3 linked regions of the Homo sapiens genome follow. The protein of the gene in region 2 interacts with the protein of the main gene of each other region in a pairwise test. Each region holds a gene or a part of one and is shown on either strand. Other genes may lie near its edges.

Region 1 (8,125 bases), on a different chromosome or scaffold from region 2:
CACCTCAAACACGTGAGTAATGTGTTGCGCTGCGGTGTTATGATGGCTACAGCGTCTCTAGGTGATAGGAATTTTCAGCTCCATTATAATCTTATGAGACCACCATTGTATATGTGGTCTGTCATTGACTGAAACATCGTTATGCAGTGCATGACTGTACTTCAGACCTTTTCATGTTTTTCCCTACTAAGAAATCAGTGTCAATTAAAGTTTATGTAAACCATCTTTAATGAAAAGTATAAACATTATTTCATTCAACAGGTCTCTGGAAAAGTTTCTTTGATGTCCACAATTCCTGTGAATCAAGATGGACTAATTATAATGTAGAGTTCATGTCTAGACGCTCTTGTAAATTGCTACAGAAGTATTTCCCTTATCTGTTTCAGCTGCTCTTCGCTAGGCCAAATAGTATCCCAGCTTTCTGCCAGCTACTAGCTACCTGTAGAGGTATATGAAGTAGGTGTGCTTTTCCAGTTTTACTGTATATTCCTATACTTAATAATCACCAAACTCTTGCAGGCCCTTAACATATGTTAGTAATGAGCATCCTTTGGTTTTATCACTTTTTACCATTTTTCTTGCCTGATTCATGCATTAAAGTGAATGAACAGGGGTAGCTGCTTCCTACCAGAAGCCTTGGTTTTCTGGGGAAATTTGTAAAGATCTCTAGATTAGTTCTTGATTTGGCATGACTGATTAAGCAAGCAGCTGTTCACTAAGAGGCAAAGCTGAGAGTAGAACAATTTAATTGGCTTCTATCTGTTGAGCTTTTAATGGAAGTCACAGCTTGAATATATGGAGCTCTTTATTTAGTTTTAAATGAAACATTTTTCCAAAGGGAGACTCTAAACATATATCCCAAAGTCTTACCTGATAATAATTCTGTTCAAAATATAATATTCATCCATTAGAACAAAGACTTAAAAACTCGATTTTTGGGCGAGGGTGGGATGATACATTTTTTAATGGTGAATTGTTTGAGTGCTTTTAAATACAGTAGTTAAATGAACAATTCATAAAATGGATAAGGTATGATATGTTTTATGACACCTTTTAACATTCATGAAATAAATGCTTTGTATACATTGAATTTTAACAAACTAAATGAGCAGCCCGTGCCCACCTTCTGCTCTAGGATCAGCAGAGAGCATACGAAAGTCTTCAGGGGAAACCTCCTCACATTTAAGATTAGATTCTCCATTCTCTTCTGATTACTGATTATATTTTTTTTCCAATTTTGTGTCCATCTGGCCTCCAGATACCTATTTGCTTTAATCTTAGAAAAGCATTATTCTCCTTACATCCCACTTAGCAAATTATGGTAATGCTTAATTTATGTACAAAACTTTTATGTATTGTTTGGTTAATATTAAACCTAGGCTAAAAGACCACAAATTAAAATTTTAATACCCAATAAACATATGTTGAATTAAAAAGAAGTAAAAGAGCAGTAAAGTTAATGGAGTCTCATAGAGAAGAATTGTAATATCAATATTTTTACCAAGTACACACACACACACACACACACACACACACACACACACACAAAGAATGAGGAAAGAATTCATTATAGACATATGAATTCTGATGGAAGGGGCCCTGTGGGAGATTGATTCTTATTACGATATCCTGGTTGGAAGGGAATGAAGTGGGGTTATTGCTAGTGCAGTCAATGACTTGGCTTTTCTCTGGTGAATTGATTTCAGTAGGTGACTTTATTTCTTTGCATTAGGCAGCTGGAAATGTGTATTGATTTATTTCTTTTTCATTTGAGAATCAGCTTTATCAAAGATGGAGCCATAGAAATGCTGTATTTGCTGGATATGAGCAAATGCCTTAGTGCCTTTTTTTTTTTTTTTTTGCTCTGAATGTTCCTAAGATTTTTAGGAGCCAAATAAAGTTCAGCTCAATGAAATAGAAAACACACTTTGAGTGTGCATATATGCATAGTACTATTCTTTCTGCTAACTCGATTGTTAAGACCTGAAGCTCTTTTATAAAAATCTTTTTTTTTTTTTTTTTTTTTAATAAGGGATACAAAGCCCTGCAGGCCTTTTGCTCCAAGAATGTGTGTGATTGAAGAGCATGTTTTAAAAGTTAAATTCTCATTTGTGCAGTGACGGTGTTAGCGGTGGAGGGTGTTCAGGTTCTTGGCATTTTGAACAAAGAATTAGACAAAATGCACAAAGCAAGGAAGGAATGAAGCAATGAAAGTAGCGATTTATTAAAAATGAAAGTACACTCCACAGGGTGGGAGTTGGTCCTACCATAGGGGCTCAAGAGCCCGGTTACAGAATTTTCTAGGGCTTAAATACCTGCTACAGGTTTCCCATTGGCCACTTGTTGTACACCCCATGCAAATGAAGTAGTGGCCCACAATCTAGGCCGGTTGTGGTGCCTCACGCCTGTAATCCCAGCACTTTAGGAGGCTGAGGTGGGCAGATCACGAGGTCAGGAGTTCAAGACCAGTCTGGCCAACATGGTGAAACCCCGTCTCTACTAAAAATACAAAAATTAACCGAGTGTGGTGGTGCGTGCCTGTAATCCCAGCCGCTCGCGATGATGAGGCAGCAGAATTGCTTGAATCCGGGAGGCGGAGGTTGCAGTGAGCTGAGATCTATCGCACCACTGCACTCTAGCCTGGGGGACACAGCAAGACTCCATCTGGAGGCGGGGTTGGGGGCGTGGCGGAGGGGAGGGGAAGTTACACTTCTGTGCAAAGGAAGACTTGGCTGGCAGTCAGTCAGATTGGTTGGGGAAAGCAACCAATCAGAGGCTGAAATGAAGTTATAAAGTTATACTCCTATGTAAACGTCTGATTGGTTGCGGAAAGCAACCAATCAGAGGTACTTTCAGTTTTCCATTTGCCACTCAGAAAAGTGAGGGAGGGGTTTTCAAAGCGAGTAACCTCCAGTTATTTTGTTAGTTAGGTGTGTAAAGTTGGGCTTTTCTGTTTGATTTAGTTCTAGGAAGTCAGTATGAATCGGCCTTAGGTTCCCTGCCTCCAGACCCTATTGTCTTGCCTCAACAGTGCAATGGCTCTTTGCTAAGACTGTGTTCTTCTTAAGATTTTAATTTTGTTTTAAATGTTGTTTGTCCTGCTCCAAAATTAGTTTTTTAATTATGGAATTATTTTTTGTTTTGTTATTACAGGCAGTGTTAGTTCTATGGTTTTTGGCTTGATTGTTTCTTAGAAATTATGTAACCAACTCTTTCATATCATAGATGAGAAATTGAGGGATAAAGAAATCGATTTGTCATAAATTTAATTGAAATATTATTAGAAGAATAGTTTTTACTTATAGTACTTGAAATTCTCTGTTAATATTAAGACTTAGATAATTTTGAATATCATGATGTTAAAATTATAAATGACACCTCTAATATTGAGATCTTTAAGATAAAACAGACATAAGATACATGACAAATAGATGGTAAAGGTGAAGAAATATACAAAAGGTCAAAAATTCTTATAGTTTATATTCTTAACATTTGTTCTAAATTTTAAAAATTACTAAAATTACAAGACATATTTCTTAAAATAAAAAAATTACTCTAGGTTTATTATGAGACAACAATTTATAGCTGTCATTTATCTTAACAGGTTGAAGAAATATGGAGATCAACACAAAACTGCTCATCAGTGTTACCTGTATCAGCTTTTTCACCTTTCAGCTTCTTTTCTACTTTGTAAGTTACTGGTTTTCAGCAAAAGTTTCTCCAGGTTTCAATAGTCTCAGCTTCAAAAAGAAGATTGAATGGAACTCAAGGTAAAGCATATGAAAATGTAATTGATGACAAGAAACTAGTTTATGAGATAAAATTATTTAAAATATTTCAAAAAAGTATTTCATTTAGGATCTAATGTAAGGCCAAATTTTTATTTGATCTTAGAAATAAAAGGAAAAACAAGTAGATGATCTCATGCAAAAAAAAGTTTAAGAATTCATATATTGAAAGATGTTAGGAGAAATTTACTTAAGTTTCTGAGGAAGTGTGTGAAGATGAAGTAGACTCCAGCTGACTGTGGATGAATACTAGTACTTTCGTGTTCTTCTTTGAAATATTTATAACAAACATATTCTTTGGAAACAAAGATGGAAGAAAAAATTAGTTGTACTTTTGAGTAGCTTATACCATACAGCATTGGCCAACTTAGCCAGACCTGGGGCAGTTAGACTCTACACATCAGGGAACAAAGTGTACAGTCAGTGCATATGAATCTTTTAATGAACTTTGCATTATAATTTAGAGCCCTCCAGCATTTATTATTTTGTTATATAATTTTAAAGTAAAAATTTCTTTTTAGTTTTTTTTTTTTAAACAGAAAAGTAAATGGAGAAAGAATTAGACATCTATTGATATAGAAATCTGCTGGAGTTTTATTTTTTATTTTTATTTTATTTGTTTATTTATTTTTTTGAGACAGAGTCCCGTTCTGTCGCCCAGGCTGGAGTGCAGTGGTGAAATCTTGGCTCGCTGCAACCTCTGCCTCCCAGGTTCCAGTGATTCTCCTGCCTCAGCTTCCTGAGTAGCTGGGATTACAGGCATGCGCCACCATGCCAAGCTAATTTTTGTGTTTTTAGTAGAGACAGGGTTTCACTAGGTTGGCCAGGCTGGTCTTGAACTCCTGACCTCAGGTGATCCACCCACCTTGCCCTCCCAAAGTGCTGGGATTACAGGCATGAGCCACTGCACCCTGCCAGAGTTTTAAAAAGTTGGTTGCAATTTTTTTGTGTGTGTACAACTTATTAATCTCACAAGATTTCAAACACAAAATGGCTCTGATGACTTCTTCACGTGCTTTAGAGCATTTTATGTCCCCAAACATCACTGTGCATTTGTAAACCTCAGTGAGTCAGAGCAGCCGTGGCCTTATTTTTTGTTGTTGCTATTTAGTTGAAGTTAATACTAACCATAAAATGGATTCAGCAAGTCTCTAAAGTTTGCTATAATTATCTTTCATTGAAATTTCCTTTTAAAATTCAAGAAATTCTGTCAGTGTCTGAGTATTTATTTGAGAATGGTCATATTTGATTTGAAATTCCCTTTGAACCAAATTGTTTTGCAGGCATCTACTTTTATGATTCAGACTGTGAATTTAATAAGACTCTAGTTGTTTTTTTTTGTACTTTACAGTGATGTATCGGGTTCATACATGTCAAAGTTCTTTTCACCCAAAAAGCAAGAATTATTTCTCCACATATTTTCAAAAAATAAGCAGTATGATTATTTTGTCTTAAGACTAGCACAAAAATATTGTTCAAATGCATTATACTAGAGATACCATTACTTTAAAAAATCTTTTCTAACATATGAAGATAGATGGAATGGTAGGAAAGAGAAGGGGGTACATACGTTCTCTGATTAAATGTTGAACTATTTTCATTTCCTCTTTCCTGTGGTTAGGATAGGTAAAGGCATTTGAATGTTAGGTAGCTGCAAGTCAGAGAAATAGGAAAGGGTACAGAGAGATGGAAGCCAAGATGAAAATGAAATGAAATTGAAGAATATTTTGCATTATCTAGTCTTATCACTGCCATTCTATGACACAGGAAATACCATTTGGGAAACTGAATTTCTATTTGAAAAAGGAGTCTGGGATTATATAAAATTCATTTAGGTATTCAGTGGTGTTTTCTCTTTTTCTCAAGTTTGCTCCTGCTTCTCACTCCAGCTTTTTTTACAAAGGACTTAAGCTGTAAGGTGGAGAGTGCAAAGTAGGACAAGGAGGCTGTATTTTGAGTAAAATATGTATAAATGTCTTAAAATTCAGCTTCCAGTTTGAAACATACAGGTAAACACACATAATTCTTTCTAGTGATCAGGAAAGAGTCTCTAAACATGAGTTGAGAGTGGTCTGAGCCATCTAGTATAAAAAGAAATGGAGGAGAAAAAATCACTGGAAATGCCCATTTGAGAGACAACAGTTTAGTTAAAAGTGAGAAATTGTTGTACTGAATTGTTACTTTTTCTGAAAACGTGTATACTTACAGGTGCTACATCTTATAATGTAAAAAAATTTTCTTAATTACTTATATTCACTTTCTTACCTATCACATTGAAAGTCTTATTGTGTTGAAATACTACTAATTTTTAAATGTTTCTCTAAAATTTAGCTGAGTTATATAATTTCTGTTGGCAATATTTACACTACTTGTGATTAGTAACTTAAAATTGCTATTCTAAAATAGTCATTAATCATTTCCTTAGAGTGCTATCCCTTTATATGCACAAACATTTCTTTTCCACCCTCTTTGAAAAAAAATTGAAATATTTTATCTTGGGTAATATCTTGGAATTTCTTTTTAGATACTAAGGAATCTAAATTTTCCTTTGCTAGGAATCTGATTTTAAATAATAAAATATAAAATTTTTATTAACAGAAGTTTCTGAAACTATAGTATAGACTTTTAATACAGAATAGTGTATGAGTGAGGGCAGGGTATTTGTTTTTCCTCCTCATTACAGAGGGAGATATTTGATTGGACCAAGTAATATTTAACTTTTCTGTACTGAATCATACACCATTTCCATCAGCTGAGGGCTTAGAATGCTTTCCATTTACCACATAACATCTCAAAAGAGAAGTGAATCTGAGGCCTGAGTGTCAGAAATAAAAAGTTAGGTTTTTCAAAAGGGAGCTTTCTGACTATGGTTACCAAACAGTAAAACAAGTTTGTAAGAGAGATTATATATTTTTAAATTTTATATAATTTTTGAATAGCAATAGAGAGTGGGCTGTATGACCATTTAAATGGAGTATTTTATTTTATATCAAGGAATTTAATTTTTTTTTTTTTTTGAGACAGAGTGTCGCTCTGTTGCCCAGGCTGGAGTACAGTGGTGCAATCTCCACTCACTGAAACCTTTGCCTCCCAGGTTCAAGTGATTCTTGTGCCTCAGCCTCCCGAGTAGCTGGGATTACAGGTGTGTACCACCATACCCAGCTAATTTTTGTATTTTTGGTAGAGATGGAATTTCACCATGTTGACCAGGCTGGTCTCAAACTCCTGACCTCAGGTGACCCGCCCACCTTGGCCTCCCAAAGTGCTGGGATTACAGGTGTGAGCCACCATGCCCGGCCAAGGAATTTACATTTTTATCCTGTGCTCAAGGTGTGCTTGGCATGAAAATTATAGACTTGTAAACCAGATAAATTGGATTAATTATTCACATTTCAAAATGATTCTTAGGTATTATAAATGATACTTGGTCAATGCCTTTAAATTGGTGAGAATCTTTGCTTATTTAAAATATGGCTTGATTTAGCATGATACATCTATTTTGTAACACACTATTAGGTCAAGTATATTGGTTTCTAAAGTTACAATGAAATTTTCTGATACCAAACCTAATATTAGTTGATATATTTTACTTTTAAAGATTTGGGATCATATTGTAGAGAAAAATTTATTGCACACCAGTAATTTTTAGAGAGAAAACTTTGCTGTACCTCTCATTTTTTATCCTAATGAAGTTTCATTACTTGTGAACTTCTCAATAAAGATGTGAGAAATCTGAAATTGTTGGGTAAAAAAACTTTATTGTATGGATGAATACACAGTATCCTAAGTATAGTTCTCTAAGTAACATAGAGCTTGGGAATTAGTCACATCATTAAATTTATTAACAAGATATATTCATAGAAACTTATGGTTTTTATGTTAAACTTATTCCTTCTATACAAGAAAACTTGACCTGGATCTTGAGAACATTGTGCTTTCACTTGGGTATTTCTTTTAAAAACAAATTTTCCGTATACATTTATGGTCCTCAATTTTTCTATTTAGAAATGTTTTCATAATAATGATAAAGAGGGACTAATAATAGCTACCCTTGTTTTCTTACAAATTTGTTACAAGAATCAAGTGCAATAGTGCATGTCAACGTACTTTAAAAACTGAAGCCTCCCAAGATAATAAATCTTCATATCATGATCCATTCGAATTGTTTTAAGGATATGGAGTTTGTTAAAGCCAGTAGATCTGGAAGTCATTCCCAGCTGATTGGAGCAGGAAACTTATCCTGCATTGATGCTGTTGGGGCTGGAGCTTGGAGCCAAGGGTAGTGGCCTTGCCAGTTGCCATCTGGCTGCACAAAAGTCTGTCAGCTGCATCATCAT
Region 2 (9,460 bases):
ACCCAGCTGGTAGGATTATAAATTGGTAAAACACTTTAAATGCTTTCTGACAATAACTAGTAGAATAAAGCATGTGTCCATGCTATGACCCAGCAGTTTGAGGAATGTGTCCTAGAGAGGTTCTGGCATACCCTGAGGAGATGTACATGGCAGGACGTTCATCAAAGCACTTTTGTACAGGCCCATAATCCACTGACTTTTCCCATCAAATCTCTATTTGCTTTGAACCAATCAGAGACAATGTGGCCAATAATACAATTCCAGCGGCTACATTTCATGCTAAGAAAACATAAATATGAAACAACAAAGCAAGTATGAATGGCAAGGTGGGAACTACTAATATGCCAAGTGCAAAATCTGTCTCAAACTGAACTGGGAATTCTAACACAACATAACACACTGGAAGTCCATAAGAAACAGGTGATACACAAGCATGACTTGGGAGCGTGGACATGAGGAAAAAGAAGTCTTAGCCCTCTCTAGCATGGGGTCCATGGTGGGCTTGGGTGATAATATAACAAAGCAGAGAAATAGTAGCAAATAAGCCAGGGTCATTGTAGCCGTCTTTAAAAAAGGTTTACAGAAGATCTAGGAAGAATTTTTTAATGGAAGTGCTTTTTAAAAGTTCATGAAACTACTCACCGCCCCCCACCACCCCATAACATCCACTTTGCATCCAGGCTGCCTCTGACCATGATGAACATGAAAACGCTGTGTAACCTACACAGCATCATGTAAGTTTGTTGTTAACTTTACTTAAAAGTAGTGGCAACAATCTGGTCATTTTCATTTCACTCACTTTGCCTTTACATTTCGCTCATTAAAGGGCAAAATCTATAAAGGAAAAACATGGTCTTGAGATAAGGTAATAGTTCTTAAGCTCCGCTGTTCAGGAAAAAAAATGGTCTTGAGATAAGGTAACAGTTCTTAAGCCTACCTGCTCATCAAAACCACCTAGGGAGCTTGTTAAATGTAGTGCTTCTTGTGTCCTGGACATACGATAAGGTCCAGGACAGGAGACTGATCTTGGACTACATAGGGGACAAATGTGGTCACCTTTACAACCATTGGGATCTCAAAAATAGAAGCCTGGCTATTAGCTCCTCTATAAAGTTCATCTAAATTAAACATTTAAGTGTAAAATGTTTATTGTTTTCATTCATTCATTATTTTCATTCATTCATTGTTCAGGTAGGTTCAGGAGTTTTCAAGTAACTTTAATATGTCAATCTAATTCCAATGTACTCAATGTATTCAGTGACACGGCAAGAGATAATCACAAACTGGGTTCAAAGTTCCAGTAAAATTAATAAGTTCAGCTACTGTTGTGTCAACTCAGCTACAATCACTAATTTCTGCAGTTGCGAAAGTTCATTGCTGGTGCTCACTGGACTCCACGTGTTTCTTGTGAAAGTCATTCAGTCATCAGTTCTGTTATCATGGAACTGAAAGGAGCCTTACAGTTTAACCAGCCCAAATTATAATATCATTCTACAGATGAGGAAAAATAAAGTAAGGAGGTCTAGAACCAGAACTCCCACTCCTGGTTCAGCACTGGAGAGGAAAGATAGACAAGATACTGCAGCATAAAAGAAGGTAAACTCCTCGAGGGCAGGGCTGTGCTGCCAGCACTGAGAATGGTGCACAGCACATAGTAGGTGCTCAATAAATATTCAATGAATTAATGAGTGTCGGGGTAGCAGAGGGCCTAATAGTTGTGGGGCAAAGCTGGCCCACTGCTTGTTTTGATAAATAAAATTGTACTGGAACACAGGTACATCAATTAGTTTACATATTGTCTATGGCTGTTTTCCCAATATAACAGCAGAGTAGTAACTACAGAGACCGTATAGCCCACAGAGCCTAAAATATTTACTATCTGGCCCTTAATAGAAAAAACTGGCAAGCTGCTAGAGTCCAAGGGTGCATTGTTGGAGGCCTACAGAGCATCTACACTCCACACACCTTGTTTGGGGTACCATTTAGAATTCCTCTTCTGAGCCATGCAGTTTTCTCTGTGATTAGCTGCACTGAAAACAGGTAGTCTAAGACTCTCTAAATAAAGTTATTCTTGAATATAAAATGGGTCATGGCCTTCTTGGCAACATCCTTTAACTAAATTAACTAGATAAGACCATACATAACAGATTAACTTCAAGGCACTACTATGCCCATTGTGCCCTGCTATTGTGAAAGATAGGCCCTTTCTTAGTAACATGAACATAATTTCGTTTCATTCTTTCTCTAAATTACTCACAGACTAGTTTTAAGTCCCTTCCTATAACGTTTATGTGAGAATAGGGCTCCCCAGTGTAAAAGAAAATTCTGTCATTACAAAGTAGGTTCTGTATTTTCGCCTGTCCAAATGAAACACCTCATCGCCAAAATAAAAGAAACCCATAAACTTAGAAAATGAAAGAGAAAGAGGATCATCACCCTCTTATTCCTCATGCTTCAGGGCATTTCATTTCCAGGCCTTGGGAGTGTGATTTTAAGTGTTTTAATCAACAAAACTACAGCATAAGTTTGAAAGTTCTCAATAGGATAGGTATATACCTCAAAAAATTGAGAAGAGAAACTAAAACAGATACTTCTACACCAGAGTTCATAGCAGTATTATTCTCAACAGCCCAATGGTGGAAACAACTCAAGTGTCCATCAACAGATGAATGGATAACAAAATGTGGTAGACACATAAAACGGAATATTATTCCGTCATAAAACAGAATGAAATTCTGGTAACAGGCTACAATATAGATGAACCCTGAAAACATTAAGTGAAATAAGCCAGATACAAAAGGACAAATTCTGTATGACTCCACTTATATTAAGTATCTAGAATAGGTAAACTCATAGAGAGAAGTAAAACAGAGGTTACTAGGTGTTCTGGAAGGAAGAAATGAAGTGCTACTGATTAACAGGCACACTGGGATGATGAAAAAGTTCTGGAAATGGATCGTAGTGATGTAAGTTGTGAATGTACTCAATGTCACTGAATTGTACACTTAAAAATTGTTAAAACAGTAAATCTTATGTTGTGTATATTTTACAATAAAAAATAAAAATCATAAAATTCCGTCCCTCCAAAACAGGGTAAAAATCATAATTCTGCCCCCCGCCCCCAAAAATAGGGTAAGTATGGCCCCATTAATACTCAACTACGTATCTCAGCAATTCCGAAAGTGCAGGACGATGCGAATAAAGGACACTACCAAGGAATTTAAGTTATGAGAAACTAAATTACAATTTGATTTTCTTAGCGATAACCTGTAACCAGATACGATTAACAAGTAATAATAGTGAATGCTACGTGGACAGCAATTTCTTTGTACCATAAAAATGTGGTCTTTAGTATAAATCGAATAAGAATACAAATACTTTCCCGTACGTGCCCTGACTCTCCAATTAAACAGTACACTCCTACGGCCAGGGGCCGTGTCTCCTACTCCGTGTCTCCTCTCGAGGTCTACCAACCAGGAGCACCGAGTTGACAAGTGCTGGACAAAGTTTTATAACCTGCAGGTGCCAGTTTCCCGTCACCCAGTCTACCCAGCAGGTAGTCACGAACTTGCAGACCCCAGGAGTCATCTGCCCCACGTCTCCAGGCCCCAGCCTGAACCCACTGTCTGTGGCTGACCTGGGAGTCCCGCCAAGGATTAAGCACTTCGGAGGCATCCCCAGCAGTGCCCTGGCGGAAAAACTCGGCCTCTACCCTGGCTGACGTCCGAGGCCTCAGCCCCAGAAGCCAGGCTCACCTGGCCTCGCCTCGTCTAGCCCCTGCCCGCTCCCCGACCGGCCCTCACTTGTGCGTTTGCTGGAACAGGGGATCCATGTCGCCGGCCCCGCAGGCCACGGCTCCGGCTCTGGCTTCCTCGGAACACGTCCTCACAGCCCCCCTTCCGGTTTCCGGCTTCCGGTCGCAGGACCCTCCCTCCCCTGCCGGCCAGGGCTGCCCGCACGCGCGCCTTACTAGCAGTGGTTGCGAGATCGGAGAAGGGGAAGGAGAAATGAGGCCGGCGACGGAAGGATAAGTGTAGTCACAGGCTCGGCTTCACGTGAAGGGCAAGGCGGTGTACATGTTCGCTGAAGGCTAGCCTCAGGATTCAGTCAGGCGTTAGGAAGGACAATCGCGGGATACTAACGAGAGGTCCTCAGAGCAAAGTTGAAGGCGAGCCGCTATCATCTGCTGTTCTCTGCCGCAGAGAGGACTGGAGGTTCTTGCTTGGCTTCACTTTAAACCATTTAATCGGGGGTCTGGAGATTTCGCTCTTCACTGTTTTTCCTGGCGCAAGCTTTTCCTGTTTCGCATTTGTCTACTCACTCTCCCGCCTATCTACCCCCCATTCCTATTTATCCATCCAGTAAACCTACATTGAATGAGTGGTTATTATGTGTCATGTGTAAAGTAGGGAAAACCGGGTTCCTCCTGCCCTCAAAGAGGTTCTGGTCTGGGAAAGGAAATAAGATATGTATACTCTCAAAAGACAAAATTACAAGAAATGTAGTTATAGATTTTTTTTCTTTATTTTATTATTTTTTATTATTATACTTTAAGTTCTAGGGTACATGTGCACAACGTGCAGGGTTGTTACATATGTATACATGTGCCATGTTGGTGTGCTGCACCCATTAACTCGTCATTTACATTAGGTATATCTCCTAATGCTATCCCTTCCCCCTCTCCCCACCCCACAACAGGCCCCGAAGTGTGATGTCCCCCTTCCTGTGTCCAAGTGTTCTCATCGTTCAGTTCCCACCTATGAGTGAGAACATGTAATGTTTGTTTTTTTGTCCTTGCGATAGTTTGCTGAGAATGTTGGTTTCCAGCTTCATCCGTGTCCCTACAAAGGACATGAACTCATCATTTTTTATGGCTGCATAGTATTCCATGGTGTATATATGCCACATTTTCTTAATCCAGTCTGTCATTGTTGGACATTTGGGTTGGTTCCAGGTCTTTGCTATTGTGAATAGTGCTGCAATAAACATACATGTAAATGTGTCTTTATAGCAGCATGATTTATAATCCTTTGGGTATATACCCAGTAATGGGATGGCTGGGTCAAATGGTATTTCTAGTTCTAGATCCCTGAGAAATCTCCACACTGTCTTCCACAATGGTTGAACCAGTTAACAGTCCCACCAACAGTGTAAAAGTGTTCTTATTTCTCCACATCCTCTCCAGCAGCTGTTGTTTCCTGACTTTTTAATGGTCGCCATTCTAACTGGTGTGAGATGGTATCTCATTGTGGTTTTGATTTGCATTTCTCTGATGGCCAGTGATGATGAGCATTTTTTCATGTGTCTGTTGGCTGCATAAATGTCTTCTTTTGAGAAGTGTCTGTTCATATCCTTCGCCCACTTGTTGATGGGGTTGTTTGTTTTTTTCTTGTAAATTTGTTTGAGTTCATTGTAGATTCTGGATATTAGCTCTTTGTCAGATGAGTAGATTGCAAAAATTTTCTCCCATTCTGTAGGTTGCCTGTTCACTCTGATGGTAGTTTCTTTTGCTGTGCAGAAGCTCTTTAGTTTAATTAGATCCCATTTGTCAATTTTGGCTTTCGTTGTCATTGCTTTTGGTGTTTTAGACATGAAGTCCTTGCCCATGCCTATGTCCTGAATGGTATTGCCTAGGTTTTCTTCTAGGGTTTTTATGGTTTTAGGTCTAACATGTAAGTCTTTAATCCATCTTGAATTGATTTTTGTATAAGGTGTAAGGAAGGGATCCAGTTTCAGCTTTCTACATATGGCTAGCTAGTTTTCCCAGCACCATTTCAAAAACGATGGTTAGATCCCACGAAGTAGGTGGTAATGCCTTAACCGTATGCGTGTTGTCAGGCCCAAGGGCCTCTTCCATCCTTGTCAAAGGGAGTGCTAACCTTCTCTCCTTTAATACAACACAGTTACAGATCTTAACTGGCTATTTGCGATTCTAGCACCAGGCAACACCTTATTCTATAAAATAGAATGAGTATTCTGATGAGCTGAGCAGAGGAGATTATCTTTATAGACAGAAAAGGGCTGAAAAAAAAAAGCAGAAACAAAGAACAAGTTTCAAAGTTATTTTACTTGTATTGGTTAAGGCAGAAGGGACTTCCTTTATCATGGGGATATGGCTATTTTCCCTCTCTTCTGATTTCTCCTAAGGTCAGATGAGCAGCTTAATTTTGGCTTTGTGGCTTGGAACTTTAGCATGAGTGACTCTATTTTGGTTTGGCCTGTTGCGCCTAGTGCAGGAGCTCAGTCCAAACCAATGGCTTTCTATGAATTTTATTTATCAAGACAAACATTCTAGAAGGTAGAAAATCCAAAGAGATTGAGCTGAGCTGGGGGTCGTCTCTAGGAGGAGATTTAGGAGAGACTTAATGAAGGGGTGGCATTTGAGCTGGGACTGGGTTTGGACACTTCTCTGTCTCCACATAGGCTATCCCGTTTCCATCCTCCAAGCTTATCTACTATTCCTCCCAAGGCAGGAGACATTCTTTTCTTGGACAAGTTGATACTTCTCTTTTCCTGGATCCTGGATCCCACCCAGTTTTGTGTCCCAAGAGACTGTCCACCCATGTACATTCTTTTCCTAAAATTATTTTTTTCACTTTTTCTATAATTGAGCATCTACAATGTACCATGCACAGATACTGGAGATAGGAACACAAGCAAGACACAGCCCTAAAACCTCCCATATCTCTCATGGTCTGTTGGGAGAACTAATCATACCCTCAAGCTACATTATTAAGTAGAATACATGCTACAATTGATACAAAGTACCATTTCCGTGGGAAGGGCAAGAACGGTTCATGGACAAAATAGCATATGAATAAGACCTTCAAGAATCAATAGAATTTTAACAGTGTCTTGTATATACTAACCACTCTGAAAATGTTTATTGTGTCTGCCTGGTAGAGATGAAGAGGAGGGCATTTGAGGCTGAGGGAATAGCTTGAGCAAAGGCAAACAGAAGGAAAGAACATGAATCTCCTCTGGCTGGATTCAGGGTGTTTGGGGCAATAATAGTAGTCGAAGAAAGGTTAGAACGAGATCATAGGAATTTTTTTTTCTTTCTTTCTTTCTTTTTTTTGAGATGGAGTCTCGCTCTGTTGCTCAGGCTGGAATGCAATGGTGCAATCTTGGTTCACTGCAACCTCCGCCTCCTGGGTTCAAGCAATTCTCCTGCCTCAGCCTCCCGAGTAGCTAGGATTACAGGCACCCACCACCACGCCCAGCTAATTTTTGTATTTTTAGTAGAGACAGGGTTTCACCATGTTGGTCAGGCTGGTCTCGAACTCCCGACCTCAGATGATCCACCCGCTTTGGCCTCCAAAGTGCTGGGGTTACAGGCGTGAGCCACTGCGCCTGGCCAGGAAATCTTAAATGTCAGATTGGGTTTTTCTTTATAGATTTTTATTCTGCGGGTAGTTGGAAGCTATCAGAAAAATCTATCAGAGGATAGTAATGTAAAAAATTTCTCAAATAATTTTCATGCCTATGTCTTGTTTTCCTTTGGGTCTCATGGCATCCCTGGGAGGTGGATAAGGCAGATAAGGAAATTGAAGTCCAGAAGATCTCCCTTCTGCCTCTCAGTCTCTTAAGTCTTTATACGTATTTAGGCCTTCCTCTAAATAGAAGAAAATGCCACTCTCCAGCTTACTGCATTTTTAACTTATATCCCATTTTTTCTTTTTCTTGTATGGCTAAACCACTTGGATAATTGATATATACTGCTGATATTCTCTTGGCATGACTTACCCTCCAGCCTCTCCTTCATTTTACTAGAACGTTTTCTAGGCTCACCAGAGTCCACTTGACTTAGTCCATTGGTCTCCTTCCATAAATCATCCTACATTATAGATTCATTGAGCTGATAACTGTGTGTCAAGCACAATGCAAGGGCTGATATACAAAGATGAGTAAGACACCACCTTACCATAGAAGCTCTTTAATATACTGGGAGGTAAACATCTATACAGATAATTAGAATCCTATGTGGTGAGTGTGGGGTACAGTAATTGGGAACTGTGGGATGACAAGGAGGGAACACTTAGCCCAGTTTGGTGACTCAAGAGAGATTCAAAGAGGAGATGATACCTAAACTGAATCTTGGAAGATAAGGCCAGTGGGGAAAACATCCCAGGAAGAGGAAACAGCGTACACAAAAGCAAAGATATATGATGTGCAGGGGAAACTACAAGCAGTTTGAAGTTACTAGAACATAATGCACAAAAAGACAAAGGACAAGGCCAGAAAGGTAGCTTGTGGCCAAGTCAGTCTAAGGAGCTTGGACTTCATTCTGTAGGAGGGAGGGAGCTGCAGTCCAATGACCCTTGTGGTTCAGGGGGAGCTATTTCATTAGTACTTCATTGGTGAGTAGTGCTCTGGGAAATTGTATGTGTGTGTGTGTGTGTGTGTGTGTGTGTGTGTGTGTGTGTGTCTGCCTGCTATATCTCTATCAGGTTGGTGCAAAAATAATTGTGGTTTTGCAATTACTTTTAATGGCAAACCATAATTACTTTTGCACCAACCTAATACCTACATACCTACCTATTTATCTATCACGTTGACAGGACTGTATCTAGGTTTTGTGGAGCCCCAAGCAAATGTTTTTGTGGGCCCAGTCTGTATATGCAATTTGATTAAAAACTGTGTTATAGGCCGGGGGCGGCGGTTCACGCCTGTAATCCCAGCACTTAGTGAGGCCAAGGTGGGCGGATCACGAGGTCAAGAGATCAAGACCTTCCTGGCCAACATGGTGAAACCTCTTCTCTACTAAAAATACAAAAACTAGCTGGGCATGGTGGCACGTGCCTGTAGTCCCAGCTACTCGGGAGGCTGAGGCAGGAGAATTGCTTGAACCCGGGAGGCGGAGGTTGCGGTGAGCTGAGATCGCGCCGCTGCACTCTAGCCTGGGCGACAGAGCGAGATTCCGTATCAAAAAACAAACAAACAAACAAAACTGTGTTATAAAATTCATGGACTCGTGAAGAATAGTGATTTAACAACAAAGATTTAGAATAATTAGTAGAGAAAAGTACTTAGATATTTGTTTATTGTCTAATAAGTGCATGTGAATATTCTTTACAGTGTTCAGGCACCATCGCTTTCTGTCTGGGTCCAGGAACTATCTCTTTATGTTATTGTCAAATGTGCTATTTCTCACTAGTTTCTGGCTACATGAGAAAAGGGGAACAACATTGTTATTCAAATACCATGACTCTTCAGAACCTGTTTGTATTGGCCTATGTAGCTTTCTTTGCCCCTCCAGTTCCTAATGCTATTTATTTAAAGCTGGTACTGCAGAGAGTCCCCACTAGGGCAACGCCAAGCGGAAATGTGGGATTGGAGCCACCACATAGTCTGCAGTAGGGCAGTGCCTAGTGAAGCAGCGGGAATGGAGCCATCTCCAAGACCACAAAACTGTAGTCCTACCAGTATGCAACTCCAGCCTGGGAACTGTAGGCAGGAG
Region 3 (4,983 bases), on a different chromosome or scaffold from region 2:
CCCCAGGAGATGGAGGAGGACATCTGGACAGTGAGGGGGAGGAGGCACCTCGGCCCATTCCTAGCATCCCACAGGACCTGGAGAGCAGGGAGGCCATGGTGAGCCTGACTCCACCTGAACCCATTTTGCCTCCTTCCTCTGTGGTCCCTCCAAGACCCCTTTATGCTCTTCGTTTCCCTGCCTTCTGATTTCTCTGGACCCTCACCCCTTCTGGGAGCCAGTGGTCAGACACCATTTCACCTGTGACCAACATGTGCAGTCTCTGGGGCCCCAAGGGAAGGGGCTGCGCTCCACCTCTCTGCCCCATTTGTTCTGTGTATGCCCCTGCAAGAATGCTCACATCTTGCCCTCAGGTGGCATTTTTCAAGTCCGCTGGAGCTAGTGCCCAGGAGAAGCAGGCACAGTTACAAGAGCAGGTGAAAGAGCAGAGGGTGTGCTGCCAGCGCCTGGCTCACCCGGTGGCCTCGGCCCAGAAGGAGCCAGAGGCAGCCAGAGGCCCTGGAGCCCCAGGGCCTGGGGGCGAGTCTGTGAGTGGGGAGACCCACCGGGCCCTGCAGGAAGTCACGGAGAAGCTGGCCCATGCCGGAACTCACCTCCGCCTTCTCCATGACTTGAAAATGCCACCTGAGGGCAGGTCGCTGGCGAGATGTGACCCCATTATTTTGGCTCCAGAGCGGCTTTATGGACCACCTGGAGGAGAAGGCAGACCTGAGTGAGCTGGTGGAGAAAGAAGAACTTGGATTCTTCCAGTACTACAGAGAGAGATGCCATCAGTGAGTGGGAGGCCAGGGCATGGCAGGGGGAGCTGCAGGGCTGTTGGAGGGGCCCCAGCGTCTGAGCCCTGTCCTCCCGCAGGAAAGTTTATCACCCTATAACAAAGCCAGGGGGCAGTGCCAAAGATGCAGCACCGGGAGGAGGACACCATCAGGCTGGCCCTGGACAGGGAGGAGATGAAGGTAGAGTGTGCAACATCTCTGCGGGGGTGGGGGTGGCTGTGACGGTGAGCGCTGGCAGCAGCGTGACAGCTGAGCACCCCTCCCTCCAGGTGAAGCTGCTGGAGCTGCAGGAGATGGTGTTGCAGCTGGTGGCGACTACAAGGGACACAGCAAATTCTTGGTGACTGCCCAGAACCCTGCTCATGAGCCCAGTCCAGGAGCCCCAGCCCCCCAGGAGCTTGGGGCTGCCCACAAGCATGGTGGTGAGTAGAGCCCTCAGGCGGGGTGGGCAGGCAGGAGCAGGGGGGCTCTCACTGAGCTCAGATCCCCGCCTCCCTCTCTCCAAAGATCTTTGTGAGGTGAGCCTCACTGACAGCGTGGAGCCTGTGCAAGGAGAGGCCAGGGAGGGTTCTCCCCACGACAACCCTACTGCACAGCCGATCGTGCAGGACCACCAGGAGCACCCAGGCTTGGGCAGCAACTGCTGTGTGCCATTCTTTTGCTGGGCTTGGCTGCCAAGAAGAAGGAGATAAACATCACCATCGTCAAAGAGCTGCTGAAGAAATTTTTAAAAAAGAAACAAAGTTATGGGGTTAATCTCCTACACAATTCATTTACTTCATTTGAATGTTATAGCCACTTATGATTATTTGTGTTTCTAATTTATAGTTTAAGTTCATTTGTAAATAGTTAAAAGAGAGTGGGTCTCTGTGGCTTTCACTGATGTTCACTCTGGCATACTTTCGCAATTTTCTTTTTCAATTTCATAATTGTAGGTCATTAGCATGCATATTGAGTTTGCCCTTACGTGGTGGGAGTTCAAACACACAAAGACCCACTATTTGCACAAAACTATTCTTGCTGGTTTGGAATAGGCTGCCATGTGTTTTTAATGTTATTGCAGCATGTATATTCATTACAGAATTCAGATAAAATGTGCCTATGTTCTGCTGTTGTTTGATCTAATCTTAATCACAGTGAGCTCTTCATTAGCACAATATGTGGTTTGCCCCAAGTGTGCACTATTTAATACTTTGTAATATGCCACCAAGAGTACTGACATTTAGAGTTGTTTAAAGGCCGAGAACTGGAAACAGCCTTTCCCTCATTTTCTGTGTATTGGTGATGGGAGTAATAACATTTTGGGGGAGCTTTTTAAATTTCACAGAAGAGGAAAGTTGCCTGCTCTGGCAGGTATGTGCAAGATAGAGTGTGTTTCATTTGTTCTGTTGCCAAGAATTAGTGCTGTACTATTGTAGTTCCTTTAGGATTTGTATGTGCTCTGGGCTCATGAAGATATTGCATCATGAGCTTCAGCAGTTGTACTCTTTTTTGATGACCTAAAAAGGGCTTATTTCTGAGGAATGAAAGGTTCCCATCATTGACTACGGATGTGGAAAACCTTTCCTAGCTTAGAGCATTTGTATCTATATTTTAAAGTCAGAGTTCATGTTACCTGTTTTAATCACATGACTGCATGTCCCAGTACACAAAAGGGCACTGGTTGGCATTCTTCTTAATGTATTTAGTAAAGATCATAAGAAATCCTTTAAGAGTTCAAATGTCCCTGGAACAGGCATACAAGCTCTAGTCAAGAATGAATTAGAGTGAAGGAAAGCTGTGTGACACCTGGCATTCCTCTGTTCATGGAGCTTCTTTGAGGCTTGAAGATTGATTTTACCATCTAGACCACTCTGCCTATTCTTCAACCACCTTGGTTACTTTGACATAGGAATTGACTTCTTTTCCTTGAATGGAAAACACTTTGAAATAATAATAAACATTGTTATAAACTAATATATGTGAGAGTGCTTAGTTGAAACAAAAAGGAGTTTTAGTAGACAGTATTATACTATCTTTGAAAATCAAGGAGAAGTTTATGCAACTTAAAATGTGTACAAACTGCAGTGCAATCTACTGTTGGTGAATGTCAGTGTATTATCAGGAAACATGTCTATACAATCACAGAGTTATATTTCCTCACAAACTTCTTTGTGAAGAGTGAAATGTGTTTCTGTACCTCTGGGTTTCACTTACGGGCATATTTTGTGCAGTATTTATGTGATTGTGCCTATGCATGATGAATGAATGAATTTCAGTTGTACATTGCCTAAATCATAACTTGATGATGCTTGGGAAAGACTCAACAGTTAAAACTTCATGAAGTTCTAATGTCTGTGTTCCAAAACACATCACATTATTAGGATGTAGGGAGATATGTATGTGTGCTCCCTGGGGTGGGGATTTCTAGTTACTAGACCATCTCCATTTTTAGCATTTGGCATCCTCATGATACTTTTATAAATACGACATTAACAGGAGAGCAGCAGTACGATTTTGCCGATGGAATAACAGATTTGCCGGCAATCACTGAAAGAGTGCAAACATCGGGTCCTTGTGACTTCAACGGACTCTTCCAAATTGTATGAATGTATCAATGTATTAGATAAACCCAGTTTCAGAATGATAAAGAAAAAATGTTAGACCAAATAATGCGGCTAGTTAACAGTGGTACGATTTCTCGCCCGTGGCTTTAAAATGCACTTAAAGTCCTGTCCTTGCCTTTTATTTTCTGAACTTGATGTTTTTGCATTCTTTGAGTTCAGTTTAAAGACAACTACGAGCATCTGTAACCAATCTGACAATAATGTGTTCATCAGGTGCCTGTGGATTAAATCACATACTGGCATATTTAAGCTGAATGTCAATCTGGAAAATAAATTGACTGTATTAACGGAAATACCACTCTTTGTGTAGATATTTGTCGTATATTTAAGAAAAAGCTAAAAAGAATGGAAATCGCATGACTATAACTTAAGTCTTTCTTCAAAGTGCATGCAGTCTTTTGCGATACCTCATTCAGCCAAGTATTGGTATTCTTCCTCATTCGGTATAAGGCAGCTTTCAATTTGCTTAGAGGGCAACATTGGAAGGTTAGAGTTCATCAGAAACAGAATTCTAAAATGTGAGTTCAATTCAATAAATTTGAATTTCTGTAGGAAGAATCAAATCACCGATTTAAAGATTGCAATATATAATAATCATTTTTAAAGTATTGGATTAAATCTGATAGGTTTTCCAGAAATGAACAAAAATCAGCTCTAAAACCAAAGCTGATTTTTAGAAAATTTGAAAATGTAAATCAGCCCTATCCATACTATAGTTTCTCTAAAACTTTATCTGAAACAGTCATTTTAAAATAACTATTAAACAATGTAACTGCTATCTTAATGTTCTGAAATAAGTTAAAACATTTTAAAATATGAATACTGTAAAGGAAATAAACGGTGGGAAGGAAAAGTAGAGAAAGAAATGCCAATTCCAGTCCAAAGCTTTATTTGCCAAGTTTTCTTAGAATGAATTTTACCAATTTATGAATTCTTGTAAGCGGAATGTAAAACGGAAATACTGAAAGACTTTTGCCTAAAGTGGCATTATTGACTGCTGGTGTGATGCTACTGTAATGTAATAAATTATTAAGTTGTTGCAAAGTGCTGTTTTTGCCTTAAAATTTTATTCTGTGTGTCTTCAAAAATATAGTATTAAAGGTATTGATACTGTGCAAATGCTGAGCATGCTTGGCATGAGATAATGTTTCATTTTTACAAAATTGTAATATAACTATGCAAGGGTTTATTAAAAGAACACAAAATAAAAAAGTTATGGGATTAACAAAAGTTATGGGGTGAAAAAGTTATGGGATAAAAAATGTAAAAAAGTTGTGGCAAAAAAATCTTGTGACCAAAAAGTAGAAGAAAGTTTTATGAAAAGTTACCAAAAAAAGTTATGAAAAAGAAGTTATGGGATTTAAAAAAAAAGGCATGGGATAAAAATAAAAATTAAAATTAAAAGCAGGCCCCTGTCAGCAAAGCCTGGAGAAGTGGGGCTGGGGTCTCCACCACCACACTGTCCCTATCTCCCCTTCCCAGTCACCCCTTTACAATTAGGGTAGCAGGACAAGACCTCTGTCTAACGAGGAAAGACAAACAGACCCTTTGCCACCTTGACCAGAGCTGAGTCCTTAAATTTCTGGAAGATATTGTTATTT

Evidence for each region.
Region 1: the proteins of GOSR2 (region 2) and TLCD4 interact in binary tests that used the Homo sapiens proteins (3 or more experiments, as listed by UniProt).
Region 3: the proteins of GOSR2 (region 2) and GOLGA8F interact in binary tests that used the Homo sapiens proteins (3 or more experiments, as listed by UniProt).

Annotation. Positions count from the first base shown.
Region 1 is NC_000001.11:95,140,287-95,148,411, forward strand, and holds part of TLCD4 (TLC domain-containing protein 4), read left to right. Parts: intron 1-3,604; 5' UTR 3,605-3,615; coding exon 3,616-3,770; intron 3,771-8,125. Other genes in the region: TLCD4-RWDD3 (TMEM56-RWDD3 protein), read left to right, coding at 3,616-3,770.
Region 2 is NC_000017.11:46,917,565-46,927,024, reverse strand, and holds the start of GOSR2 (Golgi SNAP receptor complex member 2), read right to left. Parts: upstream 3,866-9,460; 5' UTR 3,833-3,865; coding exon 3,804-3,832; exon of another isoform or gene 3,393-3,803; intron 1-3,392. UniProt on the Homo sapiens protein: Involved in transport of proteins from the cis/medial-Golgi to the trans-Golgi network.
Region 3 is NC_000015.10:28,387,596-28,392,578, forward strand, and holds the end of GOLGA8F (golgin subfamily A member 8F), read left to right. Parts: intron 1-6; coding exon 7-98; intron 99-672; coding exon 673-773; intron 774-855; coding exon 856-956; intron 957-1,045; coding exon 1,046-1,198; intron 1,199-1,283; coding exon 1,284-1,468; 3' UTR 1,469-4,426; downstream 4,427-4,983.